Linked DNA regions of Homo sapiens: region 2 is linked to region 1. The links come from fine-mapping of genetic effects on gene expression. A gene starts in region 1. The other region holds a variant in brackets. All regions are shown on one strand. Distances are between the middles of the regions.

Region 1 (4,396 bases):
TGTTCTTCAAGATATATGCACAGCATTATAATCGCTGTGCAATGCTGTTATATTTTTTCACTTCGTGTTATTTAAAATATGCTCTCTGCTCTCTCATATGTCCATATCGTCAATATACCTACCATTTTTCATGCCAAAATATTGAATCAATGTAGCAATTATACCTATGTTACCAATTATAGGACATTTTCATGACTTCCAGTTGGTTTTGTGTTTGTTGTTGTTTTGTCACACAAATAGAATAGCTATAAACGTCCTAGTGCAAATAAGCATTTCTTTCTTCTAAGAACTTCTTTAGAATAAATTGTCAAACATGCGACTATCAGAGCAAGGACCATGGCCAATCTGGTGGCTCCTATGTGAACTATATTCTCTCCAGGAAATTCTCTAATCATCAAGGTATCTACATCATTTAATGATGCTATTTTGTCCTCAGCTCTGCCAAATATAAATTTCTACAACATTTAATGGTTTCTAATTTACTGGGGATATGGTGATATGAACTAAATCACTTGAGTCTGAATATATTTAAATGTTTTTTAAGCAGAACATCATTGATGTTTATTTACTATTTATGTTTTTAATCCCTTTGAGTCATATATCCATTCCTATTTTGCAATCTGACTACAATTAGAAACTGCTGTTGTAAATTTACACCAGTTCCTCTTATCTTCTGAACCCCAAATGTGTATCTTATCATTTTTATTATGAATGATCTTCCTTTCTGTTGCTTTTCTTCCCCCTGCTCCCTCCTTAGGGGTGCTCAAATGAAAGAGAAAAGTTTAAAAAGCAACATTTGTTAGAAGACATAATGATGCACATTTCTGCTCAACTGGGAGTACATTGTCTGCTGGGGCCAAGGTCTGGGAGGTATGTTTCCTATTAGAAGAAGCAGGTTCCTAGGTTCTCTCTGCTGCCCACAGAAATGGCAGGACTTGGAATGCAGGGGCAGCACAGTGTGTACTCAAGACAAAAGACAAGTAAAGGAAGCAAGATACTGTGCCCAGGCCATTCTAAGGGCCTACTGGCAGGCATTTTTCAGACCATATAGGTGGACTCCTAGTTTTCCATGGGATGCATTCCTAAAAAAGCATTTTCATTTGAATGTCTGAAAATCACACATTGGGATACATGTTACGGATTTATGGATTGGGGGAAGGCTGAAAAAACATTGTGAATCCCTAATTATTGGGTCCTTAGATACTGCTTATCTCAGGCCTGAGCCACTCAGTGAACAGAAGAGAGACTATTGAGCCCAACAACTTCTCCTCCTTTGTATTAGGTTGGTGCAAAAATAACTGTAGTTTTTTGCCATTAAAAGTAACAGCCAAAACCACAATTACTTTTGCACCAACCTAATACCCCTTCTCTGATCCATTTACAGGCCCCCTGCAGAAGGTCATGATGCCCTCAGTCTTTACACTTGAACTCTGGGACTCTCTAGTTACCTGGAGAAGAGGTGGCACTGTTTTCTAACATGGAGACAGACACAACACAAACAAACATATAAAAGCTAAAATCTGAAAAAGCAAGTAAATAAGCATGATAATTACCAACTTATGCAATAAAGGATATAGGCAAGGTGACGTCAGAAAGAGTAATTTGGAGGTGGTGCTATTTAAGATAACATCATCAGGGAGGCCCTCCCGGAGACGGGGACATTTGAGCTGAGATGCAAAAGATGGTAGACACACAAAGAGCAGAGAAGGGTATGCCAGGAAGAGGGAGCAAGCCAAGACCCTCCAGCTAGTGGAGAGTTGGGGCCTGCAGGAACTGAAAGGCAGGAGGGCAGAAGGGCAGAGGTGCAGGAGGGCAGAAGGGCAGAGGTGCAAGCAGGGGCCACCTCCTGGATGAGTTTAGAGACCATGGTGAAGCCAAGTTAAAAGACAGACATTATAGAAATATGATTGGACAAAGCAGGATTTAAAATGCTGTTTAAACAATGCTATTTTCTGTTGTGTCTGCTGTATTCTATATTACATTGCATTTAACTATAAAGATATTTTAGAGAGCAGGGGAGTGGAGGAGCCAAGATGGCCGAATAGGAACAGCTCTGGTCTACAGCTCCCAGCGTAAGCGACGCAGAAGACAGGTGATTTCTGCATTTCCATCTGAGGTACTGGGTTCATCTCACTAGGGAGTGCCAGACAGTGGGCGCAGGTCAGTGGGTGCGCGCACCGTGCGCGAGCCGAAGCAGGGCGAGGCATTGCCTCACTTGGGAAGTGCAAGGGGTCAGGGAGTTCCCTTTCCGAGTCAAAGAAAGGGGTGACGGACTCACCTGGAAAATTGGGTCACTCCCACCCGAATATTGCGCTTTTTGGACCGGTTTAAAAAAACGGCGCACCACGAGATTATATCCCGCACCTGGCTCGGAGGGTCCTACGCCCACGGAGTCTCGCTGATTGCTAGCACAGCAGTCTGAGATCAAACTGCAAGGCAGCAGCGAGGCTGGGGGAGGGGCACCCGCCATTGCCCAGGCTTGCTTAGGTAAACAAAGCAGCGGGGAAGCTCGAACTGGGTGGAGCCCACCACAGCTCAAGGAGGCCTGCCTGCCTCTGTAGGCTCCACCTCTGGGGGCAGGGCACAGACAAACAAAAGGACAGCAGTAACCTCTGCAGACTTAAATGTCCCTGTCCGACAGCTTTGAAGAGAGCAGTGGTTCTCCCAGCACGCAGCTGGAGATCTGAGAACGGGCAGACTGCCTCCTCAAGTGGGTCCCTGACCCCTGACCCCCGAGCAGCCTAACTGGGAGGCACCCCCCAGCAGGGGCACACTGACACCTCACACGGCAGGGTATTCCAACAGACCTGCAGCTGAGGGTCCTGTCCGTTAGAAGGAAAACTAACAAACAGAAAGGACATCCACACGAAAAACTCATCTGTACATCACCATCATCAAAGACCAAAAGTAGATAAAACCATGAAGATGGGGAAAAAACAGAACAGAAAAACGGGAAACTCTAAAACGCAGAGCGCTTCTCCTCCTCCAAAGGAAAGCAGTTCCTCACCAGCAACGGAACAAAGCTGGATGGAGAATGACTTTGACGAGCTGAGAGAAGAAGGCTTCAGACGATCAAATTACTCTGAGCTACGGGAGGACATTCAAACCAAAGGCAAAGAAGTTGAAAACTTTGAAAAAAATTTAGAAGAATGTATAACTAGAATAACCAATAAAGAGAAGTGCTTAAAGGAGCTGATGGAGCTGAAAACCAAGGCTCGAGAACTACATGAAGAATGCAGAAGCCTCAGGAGCCGATGCGATCAACTGGAAGAAAGGATATCAGCGATGGAAGATGAAATGAATGAAATGAAGCAAGAAGGGAATTTTAGAGAAAAAAAAAAAAAAGAAATGAGCAAAGGCTCCAAGAAATATGGGACTATGTGAAAAGACCAAATCTACGTCTGATTGGTGTACCTGAAAGTGATAGGGAGAATGGAACCAAGTTGGAAAACACTCTGCAGGATATTATCCAGGAGAACTTCCCCAATCTAGCAAGGCAGGCCAACGTTCAGATTCAGGAAATACAGAGAATGCCACAAAGATACTCCTCAAGAAGAGCAACTCCAAGACACATAATTGTCAGATTCACCAAAGTTGAAATGAAGGAAAAAATGTTAAGGGCAGCCAGAGAGAAAGGTCGGGTTACCCTCAAAGGGAAGCCCATCAGACTAACAGCAGATCTCTCGGCAGAAACCCTACAAGCCAGAAGAGAGTGGGGGCCAATATTCAACATTCTTAAAGAAAAGAATTTTCAACCCAGAATTTCATATCCAGCCAAACTAAGCTTCATAAGTGAAGGAGAAATAAAATACTTTACAGACAAGCAAATGCTGAGAGATTTTGTCACCACCAGGCCTGCCCTAAAAGAGCTCCTGAAGGAAGCGCTAAACATGGAAAGGAACAACCGGTACCAGCCGCTGCAAAATCATGCCAAAATGTAAAGACCATCGAGACTAGGAAGAAACTGCATCAACTAACGAGCAAAATAACCAGCTAACATCATAATGACAGGATCAAATTCACACATAACCATATTAACTTTAAATGTAAATGGACTAAATGCTCCAATTAAAAGACACAGACTGGCAAATTGGATAAAGAGTCAAGACCCATCAGTGTGCTGTATTCAGGAAACCCATCTCACGTGCAGAGACACACATAGGCTCAAAATAAAAGGATGGAGGAAGATCTACCAAGCAAATGGAAAACAAAAAAAGGCAGGGGTTGCAATCCTAGTCTCTGATAAAACAGACTTTAAACCAACAAAGATCAAAAGAGACAAAGAAGGCCATTACATAATGGTAAAGGGATCAATTCAACAAGAAGAGCTAACTATCCTAAATATATATGCACCCAATACAGGAGCACCCAGATTCATAAAGCAAGTCCTGAGTGA
Region 2 (4,396 bases), 180 kb after region 1:
TGGCTAGGCTGGTCTTGAACTCCTGGCCTCAAGTGATCCACCCACTTCAGCCTCCCAAAGTGCTGGAATTACAGGTGTGAACCACCACACCTGGCCGAGTATGCCCATTTTTAAGAATTTTTTATATTGCCAAATTGGTTTACCAAATGGTTTTACACTGATTTCTGGTCTTCTATCAGCAATGTAAGAGAGTCATATTCATTTCAAGGAAACTTCATCACTATTGAGTATACTTATTTTTTTAATGTGTGAATTTAGAAGTGATACATAGTATCTCACTAATCTAAATTGTATTTCTCTGATTACTACCAAAGGCAATATTCTCCCATATGTTTCACAAATTGTTTTTCCTTTTTTTGTTGCCAATATATGTTTCTGTTTCCTAAACTTAGAGTTTCTCTTATCTGTATAAATTTCTTATATATTGAAATATTAATCTAAGAGAGTTGAAAACATATCTCCACAGAAAAACTTGAGCATGAATGTTTGTTGCAGTATTATTCATAAGAGCCAAAACGTAAAAACCCAAATGTCCATCAGTTGATGAATAGATAAACAACATCTGGTATATCCATACAGTAGAATATCTTTTAGCCATAAAAAGGAATGAAGTACTAATACATGTTACATGAATGAACCTGGAGAACATTATACCAAGCAAAGGAAGCCAATCACAAAAGACCACATATGATGTGACTCTGTTGATATGAAATGTCAAGAATAGGCAAATCCATAGAGACAGAAATTAGATTCGTGGTTGCCAGGGGCTGGGGAGAGAAGGGAGTGGGTAGCGATTGCTTAATGGGCATGGGTTTCTTTCTGGAGCAATGAAAATGTTCTGGAATTAGATAATGGAAATGGTCTCCTTTGTAAATGTACTAAAAACCATTGGACTGTGTGCTTCAAGAGGGTGAATTTTATGGTATATGAATTATATCTCACTTTAAATGAAATTTTAAAAATATTAACTACAAGGGGCTTTTCTATGGTCCAAAAAGGCTTGCGGGCAGGGGGTGGAGCCTGAAAAAACTTTACAACCTGTGCTCTAATTCTTTCTGAAACCTTTGGCATAGATGGGGTTAAAACATATCATCCTTGTTTTCATCACCATTTCACTCTTGTCTTAACCCTGAGATCCAGAGCAAAATGAATTTAAGAAGAAAATGTTCTTACTCTTTTCTTGGAGCCTTTCCATGGTTTGGTGTTAAAGCCTCATTTGGCCATTTAGGTTTGGGACTGGTTCCAGCATTCAGTTGACTGCAGTCTTAAATCTCACCACTGGGGTCTGATGCTTCCATTTCTCTTTTATTGAGCGCTTTTGAGTCTTCGGGCTCGAGAAATGGAAGGCTATGCAGAAAGGAAAGAACATGTTTGTTGCAGGGATGTGAGCAGCTGCCTCTTAGCCTGGGGGCCATTTGAACAAGAAAAGCCAGAGATGGGGACCCACAAAAATATTCTAGGTGCCAGCAGTATGGCTTATTCTTAAAGTAACATGACATTTTTAAGAGTGATTTATATTACTTTGGTTCCCTTGCTGTGCGGTATGAGAGAAGGTTGATCCTCTTCCCCCTCCAGAGAACCTTTGCAAAGTCATGCGTAAATGATCGAATGGGTTCAACTCCACTTATTTCTGAAGCAAAGCTTGGGTTTGATTTTTAAGTAGGCTCTGTTCTCCCATGATTGCATGTGGCTAGTGTCTGCATTGTGTATATTCCCACTTTTACATCTATCTTCTCACCTCAGAGACTGTAATATTTTAATACTTGCATTTGGCGAGGGGCTCTCCCTCACAGGCTTCACCAAGAGTAGAAAGCTGTTATTTTGTGCTTGGTGGAGGCATTATATGTGTATCTCAGTTTATGCAGTAAATATGTTCCAGAAAGTTTTGCCTGTAAAGCAAATCATATTTTAAGTGC[A/C]ATAGGAAAGCTGATTTTTATACCAAGGAAACCAGTGCCAACTCCTTCATGGTACTTATGAATACCCTTGCCATGACTAGGAAAGATGAGGAAATTAAGGGCTGCTTCAGTGTCATCGGCCCAAATAGTCATTAATATGCCAAACCGCACGAAGGAAGATGGTGACTCACTGCACCTAGTATGGTCCAGCATCTCTACAGAATCCACTGTCTTGGGGGAATGGAATGTGCATTGGGGATGGAGGTGAGACCTAGTCCCTGAAATCAGTGCCTCCGTTAGTAATGTATACTAGTCCATTCTCACACTGCTGTGAAGAAATACCTGAGACCGGGTAATTTATAAAGGAAAGAGGTTTAATTGACTTGCAGTTCCGCATTGCTGGGAAGGCCTCAGGAAGCTTACAATTATGGCAGAAGGCAAAGGAGAAGCAGGCACCTTCTTCACAGGGCGGCAGGACGGAGTAAGTGCAAGCAGTGGAAATGCCAGATGCTTATAAAACCAACCATCAGATCTCATGAGAACTCACTCACTATCACGAGAACAGCATGAGGGAACTGCCCCCATAATTCGATTACCTCCACCTGGTCCTGCCCTTGACACATGGAGATTATAGGGATTACAATTTGAGGTGAGATTTGGCTGGGGACACAACCAAACCATATCATAATGTGTGAGATATTGAGCTCTGTGGAACCAATTCTTCCCTATAGGATTTTTCCCTCAACACCTCCAGCCCTCACACCCACACCCTTGCATGGACTGGCCAGGATTCCATGGTCAGGAAATAGCTCTAGTATAGAGACTCTGTGTGTTGGCCATGGAATCAGGCTATCTGGTTTCAAATCCCATCTCTATGACTGACATAGCTGTGGACAAATTCCCCAACCCCTCTTTTCCTCCCTTGTAAAGTGTGGGGAAATAGTAATACCTGTGTTTTAGAGTTGTTACTAGATTTTAATGGGACAGCATTTTGCAGAGTCCAGCCTGCACCTAGGCTACAGGGAACACTGATTGGATATTGGTCATGACTGCTGAAATTGGAGCCATCATCCCCATGGTGCCCATCCCACCAAAACATGTATTAGTTTTCTGCTGCTGCCTAACAAAGTACTACAAACTTAGTAGCTTAAAACAACATCCATCTGTTAGCTCACATTTCTGTCAGTCACAAATCCAGGCACGGAGGGGATTCTCTGCTCAGCAAAGCCGAAATCAAATGTTAGCTGATTATGTTGTTGTTTGAAGGCTTGACTAGGGAGGAATCCATTTCCAGGTTCATTCAGGTTCTTGACCGAGCTGTTCTCAGCTCTGACCACCCATGTGTCTGGCCACATAGCCCCTTCATCTTTAAAGGCAGCTGTGGAGAATCTCCCCCACAATGAAGGCCTCTCTCACTTTTAATCTACTTTTCCAGGAACTGGCATACCGTTCACGGGTTCACCTGATTAGGTCAGGTCCACCCAGGATGATCTCTCAAAGTCGGCTGTGCCAAATAACAACCCGATGATGGAGTGACTACCCCATCATTCATAAATCCTAGGGATTTGCAGGGCACATACACCGGGAGTAGGAGTCCTGGGGGACAGCTCAGAATTCTCCCTACCACAATGTCATTTAGCAAGGCACATATTTTCACTCCCTCCAGTTGGCAGCAAAGAGAGGACTTTCCCACATTGGCAGAGTCCTGCATGCTTTTTTTCATAGCTGGGCTGGGGCCATTGGCTGAACCCAGCATCAGTGCTGAAAGTGTTTCATCCCTCAAGTATTAACATCTCCAGAGGGCCAACCCAGCAGTGACTTTTTCTCTGCTTCAGTACCTTGGGAAATGCTTGTGATCCCAAGAGTGGCCAGCATAGCCCTGCTTTCTGTCCAGCCTCCCCAGTCCTCCCTGGCCCTTCTGTCCCGTCTGTCCCCAGAAGGCAGCACTGCCTGCACTCTCTCATGGGGTGTCAGGATCATCTGATGCAGTATGCTACAGAGGAGAAAAGCCCCATTGTAAAGGATTGAAAGGTGCTGGGAAATTAGGAAATTTGGGTGACAGTTTCTGTGGCCCAACCTCATTGCTGCTGATGTGGTACTCAACTGTCTCTGAATGTCCTTCTGCTCCCAGTAATGACAGGGGAAAACTAAAGAAGGCTTTCCTAGGCTTTCAATGGATTAACTCTCTCCACTGAGAATGTAGCAAAAGTCCCCAAGTAGATTCTTATGGGTGTTTCTAATTTTGCGAGGATCAAGAGCCCTCTGCCATGAATCTTCTATCCTGAAGTCAAATAATTTCAGATGTGTCTCTGCCACATCTTATCCTTTTCCTAATGCTATTCCTGCTGACTGAAAAAGTGTGTTTGCTTGATAAGCTTCCAGTTTTTGCTTTTTTCCGAGAAAAGTGTGAAACCATGCAGTTGATCTGCAGTTCAGCTTTAAATTCTTTTTTCAACTGCCCCCATCTCAGTTGCTTGCATTTGGTTTCTAGGTTCTTAGTT

Evidence for each region. PIP is the estimated chance that this variant, and not a neighbour inherited with it, causes the effect.
Region 2: its variant is the best candidate, but not a certain one, in a credible set for the expression of LINC02527 in sun-exposed skin (GTEx, PIP 0.60).

The regions. Positions count from the first base shown.
Region 1 is chr6:111,906,646-111,911,041 of GRCh38, reverse strand. LINC02527 (long intergenic non-protein coding RNA 2527) reads left to right here and starts at 1,645. Exons shown (of 3, transcript NR_149099.1): 1 at 1,645-2,116. RefSeq lists an enhancer at 2,248-2,934.
Region 2 is chr6:111,724,892-111,729,287 of GRCh38, reverse strand. All of the region lies in intron 3 of FYN (FYN proto-oncogene, Src family tyrosine kinase), which reads left to right. Among named protein-coding and RNA genes, the nearest start is that of TRAF3IP2, 120 kb to the right of the region's middle. The variant A/C (reference allele first, on the strand shown) is at 1,917.